Linked DNA regions of Homo sapiens. The protein of the gene in region 4 purifies or fractionates together with the protein of the main gene of each other region. This does not show direct contact. Each region holds a gene or a part of one and is shown on either strand. Other genes may lie near its edges.

Region 1 (3,500 bases), on a different chromosome or scaffold from region 4:
CTAAATAGGCCACGAAAAGGACACTTGTTTACAGTACAAGAGCTGAAACAAGAAAGCAGAGCGTCGCCTTGTTTGACCCCATCTGGGAACATGCTACCTCGGCTGTGAACGGTGCACTGGGCAACTCAGAATCTGCCCTGCTCTGTGGCTGTCTGTGAGCAACTGCTAACGGACCTCAAATGCTAGTTTTGGGATTACACATTTTAGCAAGTAGGTAAACTTGCAAAGAAAGAATCAGAGAATAATGAGAATGAACCCTACCTTTTATAGGTGTCTTCGTTGTGTAAAATGCGATGATAGTTTGACTCCTACCCATCCCCCAGTTGTGAGAGGATGTTATTTTACGTAAATATTACCAAGGAATTTTTAAAAATAGAATTCAAACATACTTCAGATATATGTCTGTAATTCATATATGGATGTACTACTATCATTAGATAATTCTCAAAACTCAATGTCCACTTAAAGTGAGGTTTATATAAAGCCATATTCAGATAGTCTAGCATTTCTATTTTTTTATCCAATTGTCAGGACCGATCAAACCATCATTGAGGGGGGTTTTATTTTTTTAGATGACTCAGTGCTGTTATTTTCTTATTGTTTATACTTTGCATTAGTGCTTACGTCTTTTTTTGTTTATTTTTGAGACAAGATCTCATTCTGCCACCTGGGCTGGAGTACGGTGGCACGATCACAGCGCACTGCAGCCTCCATCTCCTGCTCTCAAATGATTGTCCCACCTCAGGCCACCACACCCAGCTAATTTTTGTATTTTTTGTAGAGATGGGGTTTTAGTATATTGCTCAGGCTGGTCTCAAACTCCTGGGCTCAAGTGATCTGCCTGCCTCCCAGAGTGCTGGGATTACAGGTGAGAGCCACCATGCCCCACCAGTACTTATGTCTTTAATGAGTGGTTTCTACAGGTACCATTTGTCAGATACCAATTTTTGAGGGTTAAATTAAAACTGGATAGAATCCATAAATCCACATAACTAAGTATAGATAAATCTCAGTACATTGCACCACAGCATTCAGCTGTTTTAAACACCACTGTCATCTTCGATCATTGTGGACTTCCCATTCTTTCAGGATACCTTGAATATAGGGCACAACTTATGAAGGTCTAATTTAGCAGGCCTAGTGAGTACATATGTGTATCTTAATGAAAAGAAGACACTGTTGATTCTAAGATGTACTATCCAGGAAGAAAAAATACTGCCAGCTATGATTATAAGATGCCATCCTTTTAAGACATGTTCTTTTTCAGAGATGTGAAAATGTAAAAAATGTGTTTTGGGAATTATTGAAAATATGACAGTAAATATTGCTAAAGCCTATCATTTGAGAAGGATTATAGTTTAGTGGTTAATCTGGTGCCAGATTGCCTGGGTTTGAATCTTGTCTGCTGCTTATTAGCAAACTTTATTAGTTGTGATTTTCAGTGAATTATTCATTATATCTGTGCCTTAGTTTAAATATTAAATGAATTAATAAATGTAAAGTGCTTAACCCAGTGCCTTACCCTCAAATGTTAGTCTTATTGTAATAGAAATAAATATAGAAATTCATTTTTTCCATATCTCAGCGGGGTTTTTACACAGTCTGCTTTGGAGTTCACTATTCTGTTCAATTCAAATTCTATAGTAGTCTTAGATAATGCAGGCAAATTCTGCTTGAAAAAATTATGCCTTAATTTCCTTTGATGTAATTTAAGATATAAACAAGCTTCAACTTTGTCTTTTTCTGCCTATAAAGGGATGTGGAATATTATAGTCAGAGGTTTACTGAGTAAAATAAAAATTTGTTTTCTAAAAGTTACTTTTTGCTTACTTGTAATTGCTTTTATTGTTAAGTCTTACTTTAATTGTTCAGTAACGATATCAGGCTTCGAAGTCTTATATTGTGTCAATCTATATAAGTTGAATCTTCATTTAAAGAAAGAACCATTTCTTGAAATGTGCAATTAAAGTTAAATCACCTTGAAGCAAAATCTTGCTTCCCATTCCAGACACAGTCACAACTTATCAAATGAGCAAGTCACAAGCAACAAGAAGTTCCAGTAGGTCTTCTTAAGGTGGCACCATATGAGCTAACAAAGTAAAAGTGAGAAGCGGTGACGTTTTCAGCACCAGATTTAGGCTGTAGGAAAACCAGTCACCCAAGAGGGTGGGGGAAAACTGAAACCAGCAGGTGCTTTCACCATCATGGCAGATCTGCCATGTAAATGGTGGTGCCCCTATTTTTGTCTGCAGGGATACTGACCTCAAAGGAGGTCATACAGTTCATGATGGTACTGGGATTAAGCTCAGGCTCACTCCTTGGGTTTTGCTATTCCACAACTAATGTTAATTCTGCCATCACTTTAGAGATGCCGACTTTCATATCCAGTGTCCCCTGCTGACAGTTTCTTCTACTTCACTAACTTTCGAAGATTTCCTAGCATTTTTGGAGTCTGTTTTGTAATACCGTTATTTAAATGCTTGTTTTTGCAAGCTATTGTTGTCTTTTTTTGGATCTGAATAATTGTACTAATTTTTTTTTCTGTTAGTGTTCTGTTGAGAAAACAAGTTGAGTGAGACTTTGAATATTTAGAACTTAAAATTTCATTTACAGAAGAAAGTAAACTAAATGGCAAACAAACTGGGAAAAATTGAAGTTATATAAAATGTGGTTTATATAAATCTAAAGAGCTCAAATTTATGGGAAGATTTCTGATAGGCAAAGGATGTAAACATAATTCACATGAGGAAATTAGGCAAAGAAACAACAGTTTTAAAATACTGTTTTATACCTGCTGAAATGGAAACACACACACACACACACACACACACACACACACACACAATAGCTAATCCTAGCAATGGTTTGGTAATTTACTGGGGACGTTACAAACAGTCCTCTTTTTTTAAAAAAAAATCTGTATGGCAACATGGAGTGAACTATAAAGTTCTTAATAAACTTTAATTCAGACTCTTACACTAGCAAATTTTCTTTAAAACAGCATTGAATAGCATATATACAAATATGTTCATGTCTGCCTTATTTTAAATAGGAAAACTTATTTAGGTTATCAATCTAAATGAATCTTATACAGTCATTAAGAAGGTAAAAAAACACAAGCAACTTATACTACATATACTTAAAACTTATATATCAGCATATGTATTGTATATATACTGTATGTACTGTTTTATATGTATAGTTATATATATTTTTATGTTTTGATAGCTTATACATATTTATATGTATTATACAAAGGGAAGAATATGCTGAAATCAAAATTATGAATGGCTTAGGGTGCTGGGATTGTGTTTATTAAATTTTATTTTTAATTTCAAGAAAACTTAATTTCTGCTTGTGTTCTGTAGTTCTTTTTCTTCAATCCTTATCTTGCAAAAAATATTTACAGGATGTGGCGTTCTTTCTTTCCCATTAGAGATACTTTTTAAACTCCAGAGGTCTTTCCTCATTCTTTTTTTTATCCTAAGCAACGATGATCA
Region 2 (3,500 bases), on a different chromosome or scaffold from region 4:
GGTTCTGTTATAGTCCTGTAGGGAACATTGGTAGCCTTATTTTAGTAGGCATCAACCCTCTTAATTCAAATTATAACTTCTGTCTCATCTTCCATCAGCTCTCGCTCCTTCTGTAAACCCAGTTATTCAGTTATCAGCTCCCCAAGCATTTGCTACACTTTTTAAAATCTGTTCCCTGTACTGTAGTTTAGGGGTTAAACAAAGACTTCTGAGTGTTCATACTCAGAAATAAGGAGCCACCTTCCCCAGCTGTTCTCCTCAGGGTTTCTCCCACACTGTCCAGGTTATGTGGTTTCTTGGGCTAGAGTTGCAGTGGGATTTCTGTTGGAGTTTTGGCTCTCCATACAGCTCCAAAACTGGAACCCACTCTCAGGACAAAGCTAGGAAAAGGATTGGAAAAGAAAATAAAATTGGCAGCTCACTCTTCTGTCATTTGATCTTCTGTCATTTGCTTTTCTGAGTTTTGGCCCTGCTGTACAATCTATCTGGTCGGGTTTACTTTTCTCCATCTTCAAGCAGGGTGTGTCTTCAAGCATGCATGTCTGTGTTTTGATTCGGAATTGATAGTTATAATAGAAGCATGAGCTGCTGGGAAATTATACCTCCTGATTTGTGTGGTTTTATTTGTTCATCTTGCAGGTTTGAGTAGTTTTTGGTGGATGTGTTGGGAGATTTGAATGTTACTTAGCTGTTATTATCTCTACTACTTTGGTAGTCAATATTGAATTTTTTCACTGAATCCAGCCAAACACTTTTTTTTTTTTTTTGGTACTAATTTCTTGAAATAATGTATTGATTAGATAAGAGAAGTATGTTTTCAGCAGTTCTGTCTACAGAAAGGCTTGTTCTAAGAACCATACAATAGGAATTTTAAATAAATCAAAAGCCTTATATTATGGAAACATCTTGCTTATATTTATTCTGTTAATCTGTAATGTAAAGTTAGATTAAAAAAAAAAAGACAGTGATACAACAATAAATACCTCCCAAAAGCAGGCATAGTCAACTCTGAATTTCAAAGGGGCTTATTATAGGTGGAAAAAATTTCAACATTTATTAAAAAAATAAAGATAATTTTTATAGCATTATCTAAATAAAAGAAAAAAAGTTTTAATCCTGCAATAGCCATATGAATTTGATCATGTGTGTTTTTATGTAGTAATCAAGATTGTTATGAGATTTAAATTTGTTAGTTTTTTATGTGTGTTAAAATGCAGTTGAAGATCCCAGCGTAGTTCTACTTTTCGTTTTTTTTTAATCTATGGACTTTTAATATTTGTGATCCAAAACCTAATGTGTAGATGATGATATTCAAACTTAAATATTTAATAATGTTTAACATATAATTTTTTCCTTTCAGATGGTCTTCTTATTATTGGTGTTCACTCGGCTAAGTTTCCAAATGAAAAAGTCCTGGATAACATTAAGAGTGCTGTTCTTCGATACAACATCACCCACCCTATGGTTAATGATGCAGATGCCAGCCTTTGGCAAGAACTAGAAGTTTCCTGCTGGCCAACTCTAGTCATACTTGGACCTCGTGGAAACATGTTGTTTTCTTTGATTGGAGAGGGACACAAAGATAAATTATTTTTATATACTTCAATTGCTTTAAAGTATTACAAAGACAGGGGGCAGATCAGAGATAATAAAATTGGAATAAAACTCTATAAAGATTCTTTGCCACCTTCACCATTGCTATTTCCTGGCAAAGTAACAGTAGACCAAGTTACTGATAGATTGGTAATAGCAGACACTGGACATCATAGAATTTTGGTCGTTTGGAAGAATGGACAAATTCAATATAGCATTGGAGGTAAAACTTGCTTCTGATTACGATAGATAACGTGTTTTACAGTAAAAAAATAGTTCAAGGTAAATATAAAAGTTGAAATGTCTAAATGAAAACTAATTATAGAAAAGTGATATACATTGACTTAATTTCCTAATAAAAATTTTTTGTTAATTAATATGATGTCTGAATTAACCTCTTCTCACTCCCTCATAAAACAAACAAAAACACTGAAAAAGCTCCAGGTCAAAAAGAGGAAATAGTTCAGCTTTTAGGTATATTTGTATATTCTATCTTTTTTTTTTTTTTTAAACTGCTGTACTTACTGTTTCTTATGAAAACATACGTTTTGGATTTCAGATGTTTTAAGTAGAAGTATTATGTTTCACTTTCCAACAAAATATAGCCGTATCTTTTTAAAGATCATGTCAGTGCCCCATGAACTTGAGATGTAGTTTATAAAATAAATAAGCTAGAATTTGTGCATAGTTTTACTTTTCTCTCCTTTCTTCCATAAGAACTTGAACATGTTTCTGGATCTATTTCCAGAATAGAAATAGGTGTAGCAGAGTATGAGTATCATGCAAGCGTAGATCATTTTGTTCTATATCTCCCTGGTCTTAGATCTAAAACTACCTCTTGGTTACATCTACATAATTAATAAACTCTACTGAGTACATTCTTATTAATCTTTCTTATCTAAACTGAGCTGACATTTGACAGCATGTTAGTCAAAGACAAAAGTAATTCATTTCTTTGCAATCCTGCTTTAGTAATATATGCAGCATTAGTACATAAAGTAGAAATGTCTGTGTTCCTAATATAAAAAAGCTAGTTGTGGTCCTATGCCCTGATGTTATTCTTAATATACCAAGATACAGTATGTGTTGTGTTTTGTGGTGTTTGTTTTGTTTTGGCTACTTGGTATTTTGATTTATGACAGGCAGTTACGAGAATTGAATTGTTACTCAAAAAGTGTCTTTTGTAGCAGTTTGAATTTAAGTGGTTTTAAAAGTTAATAGATTCTGTGATTTTCAAAATAGTGTAGGTGAATATTCTTTGTTAAAAGAGAAACCAGCAGCAAGCTACACTACCCAAACATAGTTCTAGAAATACTGTTATCTTTTGATACAGTTATTCTTTAATTTTTAAAAAAGAATTCTTTGGTCAGATACACTCAGGAAACACTTTTAATGTTATCAGATTTTTATTGGTGATGGTATCATAATATTTCCCAAATTTTTTACTCTCCTAATTTTCCTTATGGGGGGGTATAGTACACAATATTTTCCAATCTCATGTAACCACAGAACTCTCCCTTTTTTTTCAGGGAACTCTTATCAATATCAACACAATAATAGTATTATTAACAATTGTAGGTACAGTAGACACTATATGTCTGGCATTATTCAAAACATTTTACTTGTATGAACTCATTTTTGCCTGCACAATGCTATGAGTTAGGTAATTAGTTCCATTTTACAGAAGTAAAACTGAGACACAAAGAACTTTCCCAAATCACCAGCTAGAAAGAGACAGACTTGGGATTTAGACAAGGTCTATTGGGCTCTTGAGTTGGTTTTCTTTTTTTTAAAGATGGAGTCTCACTCTGTTGCCCAGGCTGGAGTGCAGTGGCATGATCTCAGCTCACTGCAGCCTCCACCTCCTGGGTTCAAGCAATTCTCCTGCCTCAGCCTTCCAAGTAGCT
Region 3 (3,500 bases), on a different chromosome or scaffold from region 4:
GACATCGATCTGCATCTCATAGTTGGAGCTATTGGCAGCATGGATTTTTAGTCATCCACAGTTAATGAGGAACAAATGAAAGGGACCTTATAATGGTTCATAGGCTTCAATTCCATGCATCCTATGTGTAGTACTGCTTGATGCCACATTTAACTGCAGTAGTATTTGTTTAATGAACATTTTCTTCATTCATTTGTTTAGAAAAATATTAGGCACCCCTCTGTGGGAGGTGCTGCTAGGCTGTGGGGATTCCACGGTGAGCATGCGGACAGGGTTCCCACCTTCAGGGAGCTTAGCTCTTTTGAAAGAATTCAGATAATAAACAAGTAAACTGATAAGATACTTGCATACAGTTATAGGTGAAAAAAGAAGATAATGGGATCACGAATGACTGGATTTGGAGTGGGGTCATACCCTAGGGACACAGTCTTTCTTTTCTTTGAGACAGAGTCCCAGTCCGTCACCCCGGCTGGAGTGCAGTGGCGCTATCTAGGCTCACTGCAACCTACGCCTCCCGGGTTCAAGCAATTCTCCTGGCTCAGCCTCCTAAGTAGCTGGGACTATAGGCGCCCGCCACCACACCCGGTTAATTTTTGTTTTTTGTATTTTAGTAGAGACGGGGTTTCACCATGTTGGCCAGGCTGGTCTTGAACTTCTGACTTTGTGACCCACCCGCCTCGGCCTCCCAAAGTGCTGGGATTATAGGCGTGAGCCACCGTGCCCTGCCGGGACAGTCTTTTGAGAGGAGGTGACAATGAAAGATGAGGCAAATAAAGAAATGGAGGAGGCTCTCTCAAGCAGAGGTGACAATACGAAGGACAGAGGCAAAAACAAGTTGGGGTATTCCAGAAAGGAAAGAAGGGGATAGCTAAAGCTGAGAGGGTTGAGAGGCCAGCAGAGGCCAGATCACCCAGGGCACCCTGATAGTTCAGCAGCATGTTCTGCTACTAGGGCATTGTGATGGTTCTGTAGTGTGACTTGTTCTCTCTCTTTTTTTTTTTTTGAGACACAGTCTTGCTGTGTCACCCAGGCTGGAGTGCAGTGGCGTGATCTTAGTTCACTTCAACCTCTGCCTCCTAGGTTCAAGCAATTCTCTTGCCTCAGCCTCCCGAGTAGCTGGGATTACAGGTGCCCGCCACCACGTCTGGCTAATTTTTGTATTTTTAGTAGAGACGAGGTTTCACCATGTTGGCCAGGCTGGTCTTGAACTCCTGACCTCAGGTGATCTACCTGCCTCAGCCTCCCAAAGTGCTGGGGTTACAGGTGTGAGCCACCGTGTCCTGCCTCTTGTAGTGTGACTTGTCCTAGGGGAAAGGGGAATCTAGTGGAGGGTTAAGAAAGAGATCTGACCTGAGAAGCTTTCAACTTTCAAAGATCATCTTGGCTGCAGTGTGGGGTGGGGTGGGATGGGGCTTGGACTGAGGTGGTAGCAATCAACAGTGTTCACTGTTGTGTGGTCGGTTTTAGATGGTTTTCTTTTCTCTTTCTTTCTTTTTTTTTTTTGAGATAGTTTTCTTTTGGAAATGAGCTGGACAGAGGGTGCAGAGGCCGATCCAAGGTTTGTGAGGCCTAAATCATACAGTTTGAGGGCCTTCCATAAGAAAAATAAAAACTAAACACAAAATGAGATAGAGGACCCTGCAATGGGGTAACACAAAATGAGATAGAGGGTCCTGAGCAAAGGAGAGTCCCTGACACTTAAGCTTCTGGAATTTCTTGATGAGTCCTCTCCCGATGGTGGGGGTGAGGTCGGGAGAGATCAAGAATGCCCAGGTTTTGTGACTGAGCAACTGATGATGCTATTAAGATGAGAAGGAGGTGTTTGGGGTAAGGTCTGGAGAGAAGAGCTGGGTTTCCTTCGTGGCACTTTTGTGGGACACAGGAAACAGCCACGTGGCTGAGGATAGAGGGACAATGGAGCCCAGGAAGAGGGCAGGGCTGGAAATGGCAAGCCATCACTTTCATGGCATTTAAAGTTGTGGAAGTGGATGACATCAGGTTGGGAAGAGAGAAGAGAGCCAAGCAATCAGCTGCAAGACAACTCCACCTGAGGCCAGGCCCTGGAGGTTTCTAGTTTATATATAGTCCAAATATAATAGTATATTTAACATTAGTCACTTTAAGTTGTAATTCTCTTTTTCTTTCTGATTGCAAGGGTTTCTTTCTTTACTTTTTTTTCTGAGACAGAGTCTCATTCTGTCTCACTCTGTCACCCAGGCTGGAGTGCAGTGGTGCGATCTCGGCTCACTGCAATCTCCACCTCATGGGTTCAAGCGATTCTGCTGTCTCGGCCTCTAGAGTAGCTGGGATTACAGAAGACAGGGTTTCTTTAACATTTAAGGAATCCACTGATCTACTTCTGAAATCTTCAGAGATAAAAAAGAGAAGGAATCCACTAATGCATGTAAGGATAGTGGGCTGAACAAGTAGGCCCTAATGATCAGAACAAGTCAATTAAAAAAATTATTTGATCAAAGAATTGTTTATTTTTATTGTTTTTATTTTTATTTTTTCTTATACTTCAGGAGTAGTAGGATTTACTTTGTGCCAAGGAAATAACTAGTTTTCTCTAAATTGTCTTCAAGCATTTAGGCCTCCTACCAACTAATATAATTCTCTACCTCTCACTTAGAAACATTGTTTAACAATATGGAATGATCATTTAAAGAACTTAGATCAGGCTGAGTGCGGTGGCTCATGCCTGTAATCCCAGGACTTTGGGAGGTAGGTGGATCACCTGAGGTCGGAGTTCGAGACCAGCCTGGCCAACATGGTGAAACCTTGTCTCTACAAAAAATACAAAAAAAAAATTAGCCAGGTATGGTGGCGCAGGCCTGTAGTCCCAGCTACTCAGGAGGCTGAGGTGGGAGAATCGCTTGAACCTGGGAGGTGGAGGCTGCAGTGAGCTGAGATCACGCCACTGCACTCCAGCCTGGGCAACAAAATGAGACTCAGTCTCAAAAAATAGAAAAAAAAAAAGATGTTAGATCAAACTAATATTAAGAGGTCAAAAGACCATCTTCCTCCCATCTTAATCTAAGGATTTTTCTAGTTTTGTTTATACACTTAAGTTTTCATTTGAGTATTCAGAGAGATAATAAACCCTACCCTTTTAAAGAATGTGGGAGGGAGTGGGAAAAGTAGGAATGCGTTTTAAGGTCTATCTGCCATGTAAAATCAGCGATATTGGACCCATGTGATAAGAATGCTTGTTTTACATGGCTTCAGCTATCCATAGACCAAGCATTTTCTCTTGAAACATAGCTACATTTAGAAAATCTTAATACAGCTTAAAATAGGAATTTTGGTATTTGGTCCCGGACACTACCACCAGAAAGGGATCCCATTATGTTATGATGCTATTATTCAAGCTGGTTGGACTCAGTTTGCAGAGACTCCTATTTTACAAATCACTTGGCTTGTGTGAATTGACTATTTAGTGGCTGTGAGATTGAGGATAAGGGCTAAATCTTTTCTAACAAGAGGACTATTTAAAAACC
Region 4 (3,085 bases):
TCTTTTTCTCCCACCATGTGAATACACACACACACACACACACACACACAATTTTTAAGCCCCCAAAGGCTTAAAATAGTACTTTTTGTGGTCTGTACCGGTCAGTTGGATTTTTACTAAGAATTTTAATTTATCCTTGAGATACTTGATGAGTGTATATAAGCAGTTGCAATTTAGCATACAAAACCTGACAAATGGTAAATAAAAGAATATGTTTATCCAAATGATGAAATATTTGTAGTAAAAAGTGCTATTCAATTGCCAGGAAATTAAAATACTCCAGTAAAATGAATTAAATTAGCATGTTAATAAGAGTGATAATATTTAAAAGTTTTAGTCAATCTTGCATTTCCATACTTGCATTATCTAAACTAGTTGAACTTTTCAGTGTTTTACTTGATATATTGCATTCTTGAGCATTAGGCTTCTAGGTGATTTGTTAAACTCATAGCAGGTTTTAGTACACAGTGCTGTTTATGACAGAAAAAATTTTATCCTACCTCTGAAATAATTGTACTTTCTGTGATTCAGATAAAAACTTTATAGAAACTCCCTAATGAAAATATTGAAGCATTAACCAGAAAATGAGTCAGCTTTTTGTTTCCAAAATGATGCAACAGGAAAACCTTTAACTACTTATAATCCCGTATAGTCACCATCACCACGAAGTATTGAAAATCTGTTTTCTCTTTTACTAAGTGTCTGCACGGTCACTTATGTATACCCAAAGCCAGAAAGATATTTTTATCTCAGGGAAATTCCAGAAATGGAAACATTTTTGTGTAATATTGATTCATTTCTGTCTCACCAAAGATGTGTTTTCCACGTAGCAAAGAACATCAGCCCCACGTTATAGGGAACAAGCGAGTCCCAAATCGTACCATCTGCTGAGCACTGAGAAAGGATATGGACAAGTCAGTCAGCATTCACAATTAAGAGAAAAACATCTGTGCTTTGGAAAATGTTCTTCAAGGATAGAGAATTGTGCCCTATGTCCACCAAATTTGCATGAGATCTTTATAAGATTAGACAGCCAGTGGATAAGGCCCCTTATCTTTCTTCATGGATGGCTGAGGAAATTCTCCGCCTTCCCTGACATCAGCTGCATAACTGTATTTCTGCCTCGTGGAAATAAAGTAGATGATCAGGCACTTGCGGTTTGTTCTTAATACAAGAAAGACAATTTGATTTTTAAAAGTTTTGATTTGTAGAATAATGTAAGACAATATGTTTCTTTCTACTTTGGTTTTTCCATTCAAAAGCTTACAGATGAATTCATTCGTTTAAAACTGCCAGGCTGAGTGCGGTGGCTCATGCCTGTAATCCCAACACTTCGGGAGACTGAGGTGGGCGGATCACCTGAGGTCCAGAGTTCAAGACCAGCCTGACCAACATGGTGAAACCCCATCTCTACTAAAAATACAAAATTAGCCGGGTGCAGTGCCACATGCCTGTAATCCCAGCTACTTGGGAGGCTGAGGCAGGAGAACCACTTGAACCCAGGAGGCAGAGGTTGCAGTGAGCCAAGATTACACCACTGCACTCCAGCCTGGGCAACAAGAGTGAGACTTTGTCTCAAAAAAAAAAAAAGAAACTCTGTCTCGAAGTAAATAAATAAATTTTTAAAAACCAACCTGATGTGAAGTTGAAACACAAGACGCGGAAATAAAAACTCAGAGTATAAATATCTATATTGTTACCATTATCTGGGATAATTGATGATTTATAAGAAGCTGAGGTTTCGTCTTCCTAGAAATGGACTTTTATTAGGCCAGCAAGAATGACCACTTAGCCATTTAAATGATTTGTCAGCATCTTTTGCTGCTCTCTTCTAAGACCATTGGTTTTCACTAAAGGATAAATACCTGCTAAGCAAATTATAAAATACTATAAGACATTTAATCTCCTGGAAGAGGACTTGCTGATAATTGGATCAAAGTTCCAGCATTATTGCTCTTTTCGAATCATATGGACTTAGTGTTCTCATGACCGAGGAGTCACATTTTTAGCTTGCTAAAATATTCACTGGAGAACATGGTGAAATCCACGAGTGGAAACGTTCCATGGTATTTTCAAACGCCACGTGTCAGGAATTTGGCATGCCTTCCTCTGGGAGAGGCACTGGAGTGTGGCCAGATGGAACCCAGCAGGGTACAGAGGGCATTTGTGGGAGCAGTTAGGAAACCAGGACGTCCAGCTTCTGCCTGCCAGGGAGCTCGCTCATGTTGTCTCTGAAATTTGCATAAGAGCAATTACCTCATATTCTAATTTTAAAGATACAATTTTTAAAGACATGGAAGGCTCTGAGACCTCCTGAAGGCTATTCCTATGTGAGGTATTGTTTACGGGTGGCCTTTCACTATTTCCAAATCAGCGATGAAAAGAAGACTGAGTCTAAAATAAATGAAGCAACAGACTTCAGCAGCCTGAGAGAATTTTGTTCAATTCCAGTCTCCTTAAAAAAAAATCGGTTTTTGCTTTCAATTTAGGAAAATTGTTTTGGGTTGCATTGTTGAAAGTAATGATTTCTAGCAGCTACTTATGTATAATCTCTTAACCAATTAAATTCTGAATCTCTTAAATCACTTGATTATTCATGCTGGTTTTAGTTATCCACTGCTGTATTATAAGCCACCCCAAAATTTAGTGGTTTAAAACAACAACCATTTTGTTCCCGCTCACAATTCTGTGCGTTGAATGTGCTCACCTGGGCAGTTCTCTGATTTGGGGTCTATCATGTGGTTGTGGTCAGATCATGGCTGGGACTGGAGTCTTACAAAGATTTGGCTGGGACACCTGGATGACTGGGCCTCTCCTCTCCCCATGGTCTCTACTTACTACTTACTAAGAGCACCCCAAATTGCAAGAGCAGAAGTTTCCAGGCATTCTTAAGGCTGATGCCCAGAACAGGCACAATATCATTTCTGCCTCATTCTACTGGTCAAATCAAATCACAGGCTGTATTGGGGTCACCAAGACACCCTCAGGTTTGATGATTCTCTAGAAGGACTCAGAAATCTCAGAAAAGCTATTGTACTCATAGTTATGGTTTATTATAGCAAAAGGATACAGATGAAAATCAGCA
Region 5 (3,500 bases), on a different chromosome or scaffold from region 4:
AGATGCTGACTGGAGGCTCTTTGGGGCCTAAGCTAGGCTTTTATGTGGGAGGAGATTATGCCTTGAAACTCTCTTGGGGCCCCGGGGTGTGTGCTTTGAGACAGTTTTTATGAGGCACCTGGGATATGTCTGCGTGAGGGAAGTCTGATTAAAGAAATGCAGCAGCGTCTTATGTTTTTTATTTTTTGGAAAAAGAGGAGAGTATATTTATTGGGGCCAAGAGTGAACTAGAACTTACCACTGTATCAAAGTTTCTCTGTTGAGCTGTGTGGGACACTTAAATCAGAAGAAGTGAGAAAATACACGTGAAAGCACTTTGTTAATTATAAATTGAACTACAGATTCAAAGTATTATTACCACTAAGATCTTTCTACTAAGGCAACAGATTTTGTAGCTGGAAAAGGCTGGCATTTTAGAACACCTTTATAGATGAAAAATAGTTTTGAACTGCTGAACGGGGTATTTTCTGACTCAGAACAGCAAAAGTCAGGCCACTCCCTCTGTGAGTCAGTCAAGTAAAATTTAATTTGAACGAACCAAATTTATAGGCAGAAACCATTTACAACATCATTGAACTTTGTAGCACTAGGAAGAGTAAATGTTTGAATACTTTTGTGTATAGCTTTAAAAAACAGTATGAGAGCCCCATATATAGTTGACTTGAAAAAAGTTTCAAACAAGGTAAATTGGATTTATTTTTCTTTAGAATTAACTTTTTATTCATTTTGTCCTATAAAGGTAGTATTTCCTTATGCAGTAATTAAGGAACACTTTACAATTTTCAGACACAAAGTTGAAATTTAGTAGGGATTTATTTTACAGGATTTGACTATACTTTTTCCTTTTTGTTGTAATGTGGGGGTTGGTAACCACTGAAGCCTAGAAAACGAATGTATTTACAAATAAGATGGAGAGGAGCAGGTGCATACATTTTTAGCTGTTGCTCTTGGTCTTGGAAGAATGAAGCTTAAGTTTTTGTGAAACTAAGTTTGGTTGATTTATTTGGGTGCTATTCCATCAACTATATTTGTTGAATAGAAGATGGGATCTTTAAAATTTTGCTTAAGAATCAGGATCCATAGTCTTTTTTGTTTGTTTTGGTTTTTTTTAAGACGGAGTTTTGCCCTTGTTGCCCAGGCTGGAGTGCAGTGGTGCAATCTTGGCTCACTGCAGCCTGCGCCTCCTGGGTTCAAGCGATTCTCCTGCCTCAGCCTCCTGAGTAGCTGGATTACCGGCACACGCCACCACGCCCAGCTAATTTTTTGTGTTTTTAGTGGAGATGAGGTTTCATAATGTTGGCCAGGCTGGTCTTGAACTCCTGACTTCAGGTGATCTACCTGCCTCGGCCTCCCAAAGTGCAGGGATTACAGGCATGAGCCACCGCGCGGCCCAGGATCCATAGTTTTAACATGGTGGACTTAGTTATGTTTATCGAATAGGGTGATGGTAGAGATCTTGGGGTACTGGTAAAGTTCAATATTACCCTTTCAGGGTTTAGGTTTCCACATTCCTTTCTTACGCCAAATCATGTATTGTCTCATTTGAAACTCAATAATCCTGTAAGTAGTATTCTTTTAGCTTTACAGATAAGGAAATTTATTTATAGATTGATTGTTGTTGGGTTTTGTTTTATTTTGTTTTCTTCCAGACAGAGTCTTACTCTGTTGCCCAGGCTGGAGTGCAGTGGTGCAACCTCAGCTCACTGCAGCCTCCACCTCCTAGGTTTAAGCGATTGTCCTGCCTCAGCTGGTATTATAGGCGTGCGCCACCACGCCCAGCTAATTTTTGTATTTTTAGTAGAGACAGGGTTTCGCTATGTTGCCCAGGCTGGTCCCGAACCCCTGAGCTCAGGCGTTGAGTTGCTGGCCTCAGCCTCCCAAAGTACTGGGATTTGATTATTAAATCCCAGGTTTTAGAATCTAAGTTAAAGATTATCAATAAATAGATAGCAGTGAATAATTTTTTTTTTCCTTTTAGGGGCTTAAAGTACTTAAATCTCTGTTGAACAGTGGATACCACCAGTTATAATTACTTTGGGAGATGGTGATTTGAGTCTCTTAATCTGTGAAATATTAGAAAAGTCTTGGCTAGGCACAGTGGCTCATTCTGGGAGGCAGACACGGGAGGATCACTTGAGGCCAGGAGTTCGAGACCAGCCTGGGCAACATAGAGACAACATCTCTACAAAAAATACAAAAACTAGCCAGGCATAGTGGTATGAACCTGTAGTTCCAGCTACTCAGGAGGCTGAAGTGGAAGGATCACTGGAGCCTGGGAGGTCAAGGCTGAAGTGAGCCGAGACTATGCCACTGCAGTCTAGCCTGGGAGACAGAGGGAGACCCTGTCTCAAAAAAAAAAAAGAAAAAATCTTTTCACCATTTTCATCTTTTGAACTATTAACTACGTATAGAGGTGTCAGTTAGCTTTCTCTCATTATCCTTTGTTTTATTGGCTGAACCTCATTCTATGGGCTCCCTTGACTCCCTGGCCACTGTCTTGGCACTTGAAGCCTTTTAGGTTGCTTAGTGTAGAGCTGAAGTGCATATTGTGTGAAAATCTTTTTGCTCTTTGGAGTGGTAGAGGTCTAGGCTCAACCAGAAACTGTCACTACCCTAGCACCTCCATGAAAGAAGCTGCACAGCAATACTAGCTGTCTGCTTTCCACAGTTCCCCATTGTGGAGTTACCAGGACTTAGGTGAGAGAATGACTCGTTTCCTGCACTGTTTGTTCAGTCAGTGTAGATTTACAGGACACAGAAATCTTTCCCAGAAAAATGACTGTGAGGAGTTGACAGATTATACAGATATTTTTTATGTGACTTGAATGTAGACGGTTTTTGTTTGCCTATACTGATTTTCTTGCCCACAGGTTATGTTAACACAGCATCCACTTCATTTTAAGTGGCCTAAACTAAATTTCATCATTTGAATATAAATTTACCTTACACAATGTTGGCTTTTTAAATTCTTGAGAATTTTAAGATTAGGCTTTTTTGTGACCCTTTCTTTGCTAGTTGAGCCTGGTTTGAAAAAATATTTTGAACATTTAGAACAGTCTTTACCTTTAGAGAAGTGGTGCATTTAATTCCTCTCATAGTATTTTTTATTTGAACTTTTAGTCTTCTCAAGACATTAATTCTTTTGGCATAAAATGTACACATGATATATTTGTTTTAGCAGATCAGATAAATTACTTTATATTTTTATTTCTGCAGTGGCCAGATATGTTGGCTGTTAACTAATGTATTGTTTGACAGGAATTCAAATTCACAATCAGGTCTGTTTTCTTCCAGTTGTCCTTTAGTTTTTGTTTAAATTTGACCAACTTTTTATTTTCCCCACCGTTTTACAGGAAACATTCACTAGGTTGTATCACCACAGTATTTGTAAATTGGATTTATATACAAATGTTGATATTTGTTGTTTTTAGTAGCAGAACAAATTGTTGTGTATTGTATTTTCCATTATTGGTGAAAAGCCTTTCATTAGGGGATGGAGT
Region 6 (3,500 bases), on a different chromosome or scaffold from region 4:
ATCCCAGCACTTTGGGAGGCCGAGGCAGGCAGATCACCTGAGGTTAGGAGTTCAAGACCAGCCTGGCCAACATGGTGAAACCCCTTTTCTACTAAAAATAAAAAATTAGCCGGGTATGGTGGCATTTGCCTGTAGTCCCAGCTACTCAGGAGGCTGAGGCAGGAGAATCGCTTGAACCAGGAGGTGGAGGTTGCAGTGAGCCAAGATCGTGCCACTGAACTCCGGCCCAAGCGACAGAGTGAGACTCTGTCTCAAAAAAAAAAAAAAGTGCAAAAAAGTTAGCCAGGCATGGTGGCGCATCCTGTACTCCAAGCTACTCGGGAAGCTGAGACAAGAGAATCACTTGAACCCGGGAGGTGGGGATTGCAGTGAGCCATGATCGTGCTGCTGCACTCCAGCCTGGGCAACAAGAGTGAAAATTACGTCTCAAAAAAAAAAAGCACCAAATTACACATGAACAGTAGAGGAGATGAAGTTGTGTGTTTATAAGTAAAAGACTACATACACAGCAGTGAGAAGGGGAACTATAGCTGAATGTTTTGGCACAAATGAATCTCAAACATAATCCAAGCAGAAAAAGAAAATCACAATATATACAGTTCAAAAACCGGCCGGGCACAGTGGCTCACCACTGTAATCCCAGCACTTTGGGAGGCTGAGGCGGGAGGATCACCTGAGGTCAGGAGTTCGAGACCAGCCTGTCCAACATGGTGAAACCCCACATCTACTAAAAATACAAAAATTAGGTGGGCATGGTGGCAGGTGCCTGTAGTCCCAGCTACAGAGGAGGCTGAGGCAGGAGGATCACTTGAACCTGGGAGGTGGAGGTTTCAGTGAGCTGATAATCTGCCACTGCACACCAGCCTGGGTAATAGACTGAGACTTTGTCTCCAAAAAAAAAAAAAAAGCAGGCAAGAACTTAATATATGATTGAGAGTAAAACTCAGGGAAAGCAAGAGAGTTTTTTAAAAACTACAATATCGGCTGGGCACGGTGGCTCACGCCTGTAATCCCAGCACTTTGGGAGGCCAAGATGGGCAGATCATGAGGTCAAACGATTGAGACCATCCTGGCCAACATGGCGGCCCGTCTCTACTAAAAATACAAAAATTAGCTGGGCGTGGTGGTGCACACCTGTAGTCCCAGCTACTCAGGAGGCTGAGGCAGAAGAATTGCTTGAACCTGGGAGGTGGAGGTTGCGTGAGCCAAGATCACGCCACTGCGCTCCAGCCTGGCAACAGCGAGACTCCATCTCAAAAAAAAGAAAGTACAATATCAAGGATAGTGGTTTCCTTAGATGGGGACAGCCACAGAGTGCAGTCAAGCAGAAGCAGCTGAACTAACTCTGAGGTGAGGTGGGGGTTGTATGAGTGTCCGTCTTTTTTTTTTTTTTGATGGGAGTCTCGCTCTGTCCCCCAGGCTGGAATGCAGTGGCAAGTTCTTGGCTTATTGCAGCCTCTGCCTCCCGAGTTCAAGAGATTCTCCTGCCTCAGCCTCCCGAGTAGCTGGGATTATAGGCGTGTGCCACCATGCCCAGCTAATTTTTTTTTTTTCGAAACCAAGTCTCACTCTGTCGCCCAGGCTGGAGTGCAGTGGCGTGATCTCAGCTCACTGCAAGCTCCGCCTCCCAGGTTCATGCCATTCTCGTGCCTCAGCCTCCCGAGTAGCTGGGACTACAGGCACCCGCCTGGCTAATTTTTTGTATTTTTTAGTAGAGATGGGGTTTCACCCCATGTTAGCCAGGATGGTCTCGATCTCCTGACCTCGTGATCCACCCGCCTCGGCCTCCCAAAGTGCTGGGATTACAGGCGTGAGACACCACGCCCAACCAAATTTTTTGTATTTTTAGTAGAAACGGGGTTTCACAGTGCTAGCCAGGATGGTCTTGATCTACTGACCTCATGATCCGCCCACCTCGTCCTCCCAAAGTGCTGGGATTACAGGCATGAGCCACCCGCCCGGCCCGAGTGTTTGTTTTAATATTCTTTACGGTATACATACTGTATCTTGTATGTGTAAGAAATGTTTTATTTTATTTATTTATTATTTTTTTGAGATGGAGTCTCACTTTGTCACCCACGCTGGAGTGCAATGGTGCAATCTTGGCTCACTGCATCCATCACCTCCTGGGTTCAAGCGATTCTCCCACCTCAGCTTCCTGAATAGCTGGGACTACAGGCACCACCATCAAACCTGGCTAGTTTTTATATTTTTGTAGAGACAGGGTTTCACCATGTTGGCCAAGCTGGTCTTGAACTCCTGACCTCAGGTGATCCGCCTGCCTCGGCCTCCCAAAGTGCTGGGATTACAGGTATGAGCCACCGTGCCCAGCCAGAAATGTTTTATTTTATAAAGGGTAATGGTCATACCTGCCTTGTCTACATGTCAAATGAGATAATCAAACGAGAAACATTAGCTTTAATTTTGTGGGCATTTACTCTATGCTAATCACTGATCTGTGTTTCTCACTCATTCAGCACAGTAACACTATGAGAGAGTAGAACTATTCTTGTTTAGAGATAACAGGTCAGAGTGGTTTAGTAACTTGTCCAAGGTTACACTGCCTGTAAGTGACAGGGCCCAGCATTTTGCAGAGTGTCTTAGTCTGTCTTGTGCTGTTGTAACACACCAAAAATACCAGAGGCTGGGTGATTTATAAAGAACAGAAATTGGCCAGGCATGGTGGCTCACGCCTGTAATCCCAGCACTTTGGGAGGCCGGGGCGGGGCAGATCTCGAGATCAGGAGATGGAGACCATCTTGGCTAACATGGTGAAATCCCATCTCTACTAAAAATACAAAAATTTAGCCGGGCGTGGTGGCACGCACCTGTAGTCCCAGCTACTCAGGAGGCTGAGGTAGGAGAATCACTTGAACCCGGGAGGCAGAGGTTGCAGTGAGCCAAGATTGTGCCATTGCACTCCAGGCTGGGTGACAGCAAGACTCTGTCTCAAAAAAAAAAAAGATCACAAATTTATTTCTGGCAGTTCTGGAGGTGGGGGAGTCCAAGATCAAGGTACCAGCTGGTTCATTTTCTGGTGAAGGCTGCTCTTCTCTTCCATCCAAGATGATACCTTGTTGAAGATACCTTATTTGTAGGAGAGGAATGGGAGGAATGCTGTGGCCTCACATGGTGGAAAGCAAAATGGCAACAGGGCCAAACAGGCATGAAGCCTGTTTTCCTTTTTCTTTCTTTCTTTTCCTTTTTTTTAGAGACGAGACGGGGTCTCACTATGTTAACCAGGCTGGTCTCAAACTCAAGCAATCCTCTCACCTCGGACTCCCCAAGTGCCCAGGATTGCACGCATGAGCCACCATGGCTGGCCTTTTTTTTTCCATAGAGATATGGTCTTGCCATATTGTCCAGGCTGGTCTCAAACTCCTGGGCTCAAGTGATCCCCTGCCTCCTCCTCCCAAGGTACTAAGATTACAGGTGTGAGCCACCACACCCAGCCTGAAGCCTCTTTTATAAGGGCCTTAATCCCATTCAAGAGGAAGGAG
Region 7 (3,500 bases), on a different chromosome or scaffold from region 4:
GACTGTGCTGGGGGTGGAGCCTTGGCCCCTTCCTGGAGAGGAGGGATGGCCTGCCGCGCTCTCCTGCTTCCTAGGACCTTCCTGCTTGTGAGGGCCCAGTCAGCAGTGCCCTTTGTCATTGCAGGAGTTGGTGGCTTCAAAAATGCCAGGAAGGGATCTGCTTTGCAGATTTTCTGCCATGAAAGCCCCCTTTGTGGTCCATCAGAGGCCATAGCCTCAGAGGAAGCCCTGAAGAGCAGGTTTCTTTTTTTTTTTTTTTTTTTTTTTGAGATGGTGTCTCACTCTGTTGCCCAGTCTGGAGTGCAGTGGTGTGATCTTGGCTCATCGCAACCTCTGCCTCCCAGGTTCGAGCTATTCTCCTGCCTCCCAGGTTCAAGCTATTCTCCTGCTTCAGCCTCCTGAGTAGCTGGGATTACAGGCATGAGCCACCATACCTGGCTAATTTTTGTATTTTTAGTAAAGACAGGGTTTCGCCATGATGGCCAGGGTGGTCTGAAACTCCTGACCTCAGGTGATCCAGCTGCCTCGGCCTCCCAAAGTGCTGGGATTACAGGCATGAGCCACCGAGCCCAGCCGAGCAGTTTGGGATGATGGGGAGAGAGGCAGGGAGACAGAAAGGCGTTCTCAGGCTTTCAGCATGGCTGGGACCCGCTGTCCCCACAGCAGAGAGTGATGCAGGCCAAAGGTCAGGGGTACTGAGCTTGAGGAACTCCCTAGATCCTGAACTTCCCTTTCCTGGCCGCTTCTGCTGGCCCATAATAGATATGGAACCGATAGTGGATGAGCAAATGAATGAATGAATAAGTGAATGAGCAGAGGCGACCAGGAAGAACTGGGCATCAGTGCTGAGACATGCTGGCTGATGGGGTTTTGATGAGGACGACACAATCTGACATATTCGTGAGGATCCCTCGCTCTTTAGGGGCTGAGAGGGGGAGAGGCTCCTGTGCAGAGCCAAGGCAGGCGTGAGCATGAGAGAGCAGCCCCCACCAGCTCACCCAGAAGGTGCTGGGAGCTTCTCGGCCTCCCAGCTGTGTCCTGGCCACCACAGCCCTCGGCCTTCTCCTCCTCCTCCGAAGGATGGGCTCAGAGAGGGACAGAGATGCCCACCCCTCCTCCCTGGGGACATCAGGGCTGGCATTGCGCTGTCGTGCGCGTGAGGCTTGGAGAAGGCAGGATACGCTTGCCAGCACATGAAGGCTTTTCCCAGTGGGGCTGGGCGGTGCCCCAGGTTCTTCTTCCCAGCTTCAGCCTTTTCCCTGTAGCAGGGGCTGGGCAGGGAGGCCTTGGAGCCCCAAGGCTGTAGCTTTTCTCCATATCTTGGTCAGGCCCCGGAGCCCGCTGTTGTCTCACTCTGTGACTGCGAGTCTCATCTCCCCCTCTGTCTCGCTCATCTCCTCGTCTGTGCTTCTGCTTCTCTGCCATCTCTCTCTGCAGTCTCTATTGTTCTCTTGAGGCCCTTCTCTGTCTCTGCCCATGTGTCCCCTGGAAATTGAACTCGAAGGCCCCAACAGCAAGAACAGTGCCTGGCACACTGTGGGCACACGGGGAGCACTGGCTGAATGGGTGGTGACCTCTGAAAGATAGGGGTATTGCAGGTGGGGGCAGAGGATGCGCGCGGGGACCCTGGCCCGGAGCAGGCTGAGTCATAAGCTGTGTGCGTGACATCTGTGTGCTGTCTCCACCCCAGGAGACAGGGGTCCCCTGTTCTGTGTGTCCCCTTTACCTGGGCTGTGCTGCCTGTCACGAGGCCGCTGAGCGAGCACAGGCCCAGGCAGACGACCCGCAAACCTTGCCTTTGAGGCAGCTCATTTATCTCCAGCAACTGTCAAAATATTAAGCTAACTGGGATGTGATTGCTGTGAATTGCTCCAGAAAAATAGCTGGGAGCTCTTAAGATTTTAAGAGATTTTTTTTTTTTTTTTTTTTTTTTTGAGACCGAGTCTTGCTCTGTCGTGCAGGCTAGAGTGCAGTGGCGCAATCTCGGCTCACTACAACCTCCGCCTCTCAGGTTCAAGTGATTCTCCTGCCTCAGCCTCCCGAGTAGCTGGGATTACAGGCACGTGTCACCATGCCTGGCTAATTTTTTTGTATTTTTAGTAGAGACCTGTTAGCCAGCATGGTCTCGATTCTGAGCTCGTGATCCGCCTGCCTCGGCCTGCCAGAGTGCTGGGATTACAGGCGTAAGCCACCGCAGCTGGCCGAGAGATAATTTTCTAATACTGCCGTTGTCTTTTGATGCTTTCATTAAATGATGGAGAAAATACAATTAGCATGTTTGCCTCATTTGCTCCATGGTGTTCATTTAGGTCCAGAGGGCCACTCGAGTTGTCATGGAAACCGGCTTGTCAGGCTGGCTCTAGCTGAATCCAACAGGAAATCTTTATTCCCAAAAGCAGGTTGTCAGATTCACTCTCAGTCAAAGTGCGGTGGAAATATTTTCCCATATTATTTGCCTGTGGTTCCCAAGCACTGGGAGCCCCACGTTCCCAAGGTGTGTTCTGTGCGGGGAGGAGGGGCAGGCACAGGCCTTTTCTTAATGGGCCCCCTGGGGCTTGATTTGGAGCCTGGGGCTGTGTTTATTGAGGAGGAAAAGCGCTTTGCCTTGGGGAGGCAGGTTCAGGTAACTGGTGGGAAGTGAGCTCCTCTGGGGGTTTTGGGCAGGGCCCTGGGGCTGCTCCTGTCTCCCTTTCCTCCATTACTTCCTGCAGTTTGCTCTTCTGCTTTATAGTGAGGATCTTCCACATTGAAGAAGCCACTTTTATTTATTTTTTTAAGACAGGGCCTCGCTCTGTCGCCCAGGCTGGAGTGCAGTGGTGCAATCTAGGCTCACTGTAATCTCTGCCTTCCGGGCTCAAGCGATCCTCCTATCTCAGCCTTTGGGACCACATGTGTGCACCGCCATGCCCAGCTAATTTTTTTTTTTTTTTTTTTTTTTTTGAGGCAGAGTTTTGCTCTCGTTGCCCAGCCTAGAGTGCAATGGCGCCATCTCGGCTCACCGCAACCTCTGCCTCCTGGGTTCAAGCTGTTCTCCTGCCTCAGCCTCCCGAGTAGCTGGGATTACAGGCACCACCACGCCCGGCTAATTTTTGTATTTTTAGTAGAGACGGGGTTTCTCCATGTTGGTCAGGCTGGCCTCAAACTCCTGACCTCAGGTGATCCGCCTGCCTCGGCCTCCCAAAGTGCTGGGATTACAGGTGTGAGCCACCGTGCCCAGCCAACCCAGCTAATTTTTTGTATTTTTGGTAGAGACGGGGTTTCGCCATGTTACCCAGGCTGGTCTGGAACTCCTGAGCTCAAGTGATCCACCCACCTCAGCCTCCCAGAGTGCTGGGATTACAGGTGTGAGCCACCGTGCCTGACAAAGCCACTTTTTAAAGGCATCCTTGCAGATACTTCTCTGAAATGACTGGGACATGGGAGTATGGCACCAAGTTGCTGTGTGACCCTGGGTAAACCCCTAGACGTCTCTGGGCCTCAGACTCCTTCTGTACAAGTGA

The links.
Region 1: the proteins of TNFAIP8 (region 4) and PPP1R2 fractionate together in Homo sapiens (co-fractionation; one large-scale study listed by BioGRID). This does not show direct contact.
Region 2: the proteins of TNFAIP8 (region 4) and NHLRC2 fractionate together in Homo sapiens (co-fractionation; one large-scale study listed by BioGRID). This does not show direct contact.
Region 3: the proteins of TNFAIP8 (region 4) and IPO5 fractionate together in Homo sapiens (co-fractionation; one large-scale study listed by BioGRID). This does not show direct contact.
Region 5: the proteins of TNFAIP8 (region 4) and PTP4A2 purify together in Homo sapiens (affinity purification with mass spectrometry; one large-scale study listed by BioGRID and IntAct). This does not show direct contact.
Region 6: the proteins of TNFAIP8 (region 4) and DPP3 fractionate together in Homo sapiens (co-fractionation; one large-scale study listed by BioGRID). This does not show direct contact.
Region 7: the proteins of TNFAIP8 (region 4) and ACOT7 fractionate together in Homo sapiens (co-fractionation; one large-scale study listed by BioGRID). This does not show direct contact.

The regions. Positions count from the first base shown.
Region 1 is NC_000003.12:195,536,826-195,540,325, reverse strand, and holds part of PPP1R2 (protein phosphatase inhibitor 2), read left to right. Parts: intron 1-3,500. UniProt on the Homo sapiens protein: Inhibitor of protein-phosphatase 1.
Region 2 is NC_000010.11:113,875,161-113,878,660, forward strand, and holds part of NHLRC2 (NHL repeat-containing protein 2), read left to right. Parts: intron 1-1,360; coding exon 1,361-1,816; intron 1,817-3,500. UniProt on the Homo sapiens protein: Required for normal embryonic development.
Region 3 is NC_000013.11:97,956,675-97,960,174, reverse strand, and holds part of IPO5 (importin-5), read right to left. Parts: intron 1-3,500. UniProt on the Homo sapiens protein: Functions in nuclear protein import as nuclear transport receptor. Serves as receptor for nuclear localization signals (NLS) in cargo substrates.
Region 4 is NC_000005.10:119,397,104-119,400,188, forward strand, and holds the end of TNFAIP8 (tumor necrosis factor alpha-induced protein 8), read left to right. Parts: 3' UTR 1-2,585; downstream 2,586-3,085. UniProt on the Homo sapiens protein: Acts as a negative mediator of apoptosis and may play a role in tumor progression.
Region 5 is NC_000001.11:31,931,869-31,935,368, reverse strand, and holds part of PTP4A2 (protein tyrosine phosphatase type IVA 2), read left to right. Parts: intron 1-3,500.
Region 6 is NC_000011.10:66,500,934-66,504,433, forward strand, and holds part of DPP3 (dipeptidyl peptidase 3), read left to right. Parts: intron 1-3,500. UniProt on the Homo sapiens protein: Cleaves and degrades bioactive peptides, including angiotensin, Leu-enkephalin and Met-enkephalin. Also cleaves Arg-Arg-beta-naphthylamide (in vitro).
Region 7 is NC_000001.11:6,334,768-6,338,267, reverse strand, and holds part of ACOT7 (cytosolic acyl coenzyme A thioester hydrolase), read left to right. Parts: intron 1-3,500. UniProt on the Homo sapiens protein: Catalyzes the hydrolysis of acyl-CoAs into free fatty acids and coenzyme A (CoASH), regulating their respective intracellular levels.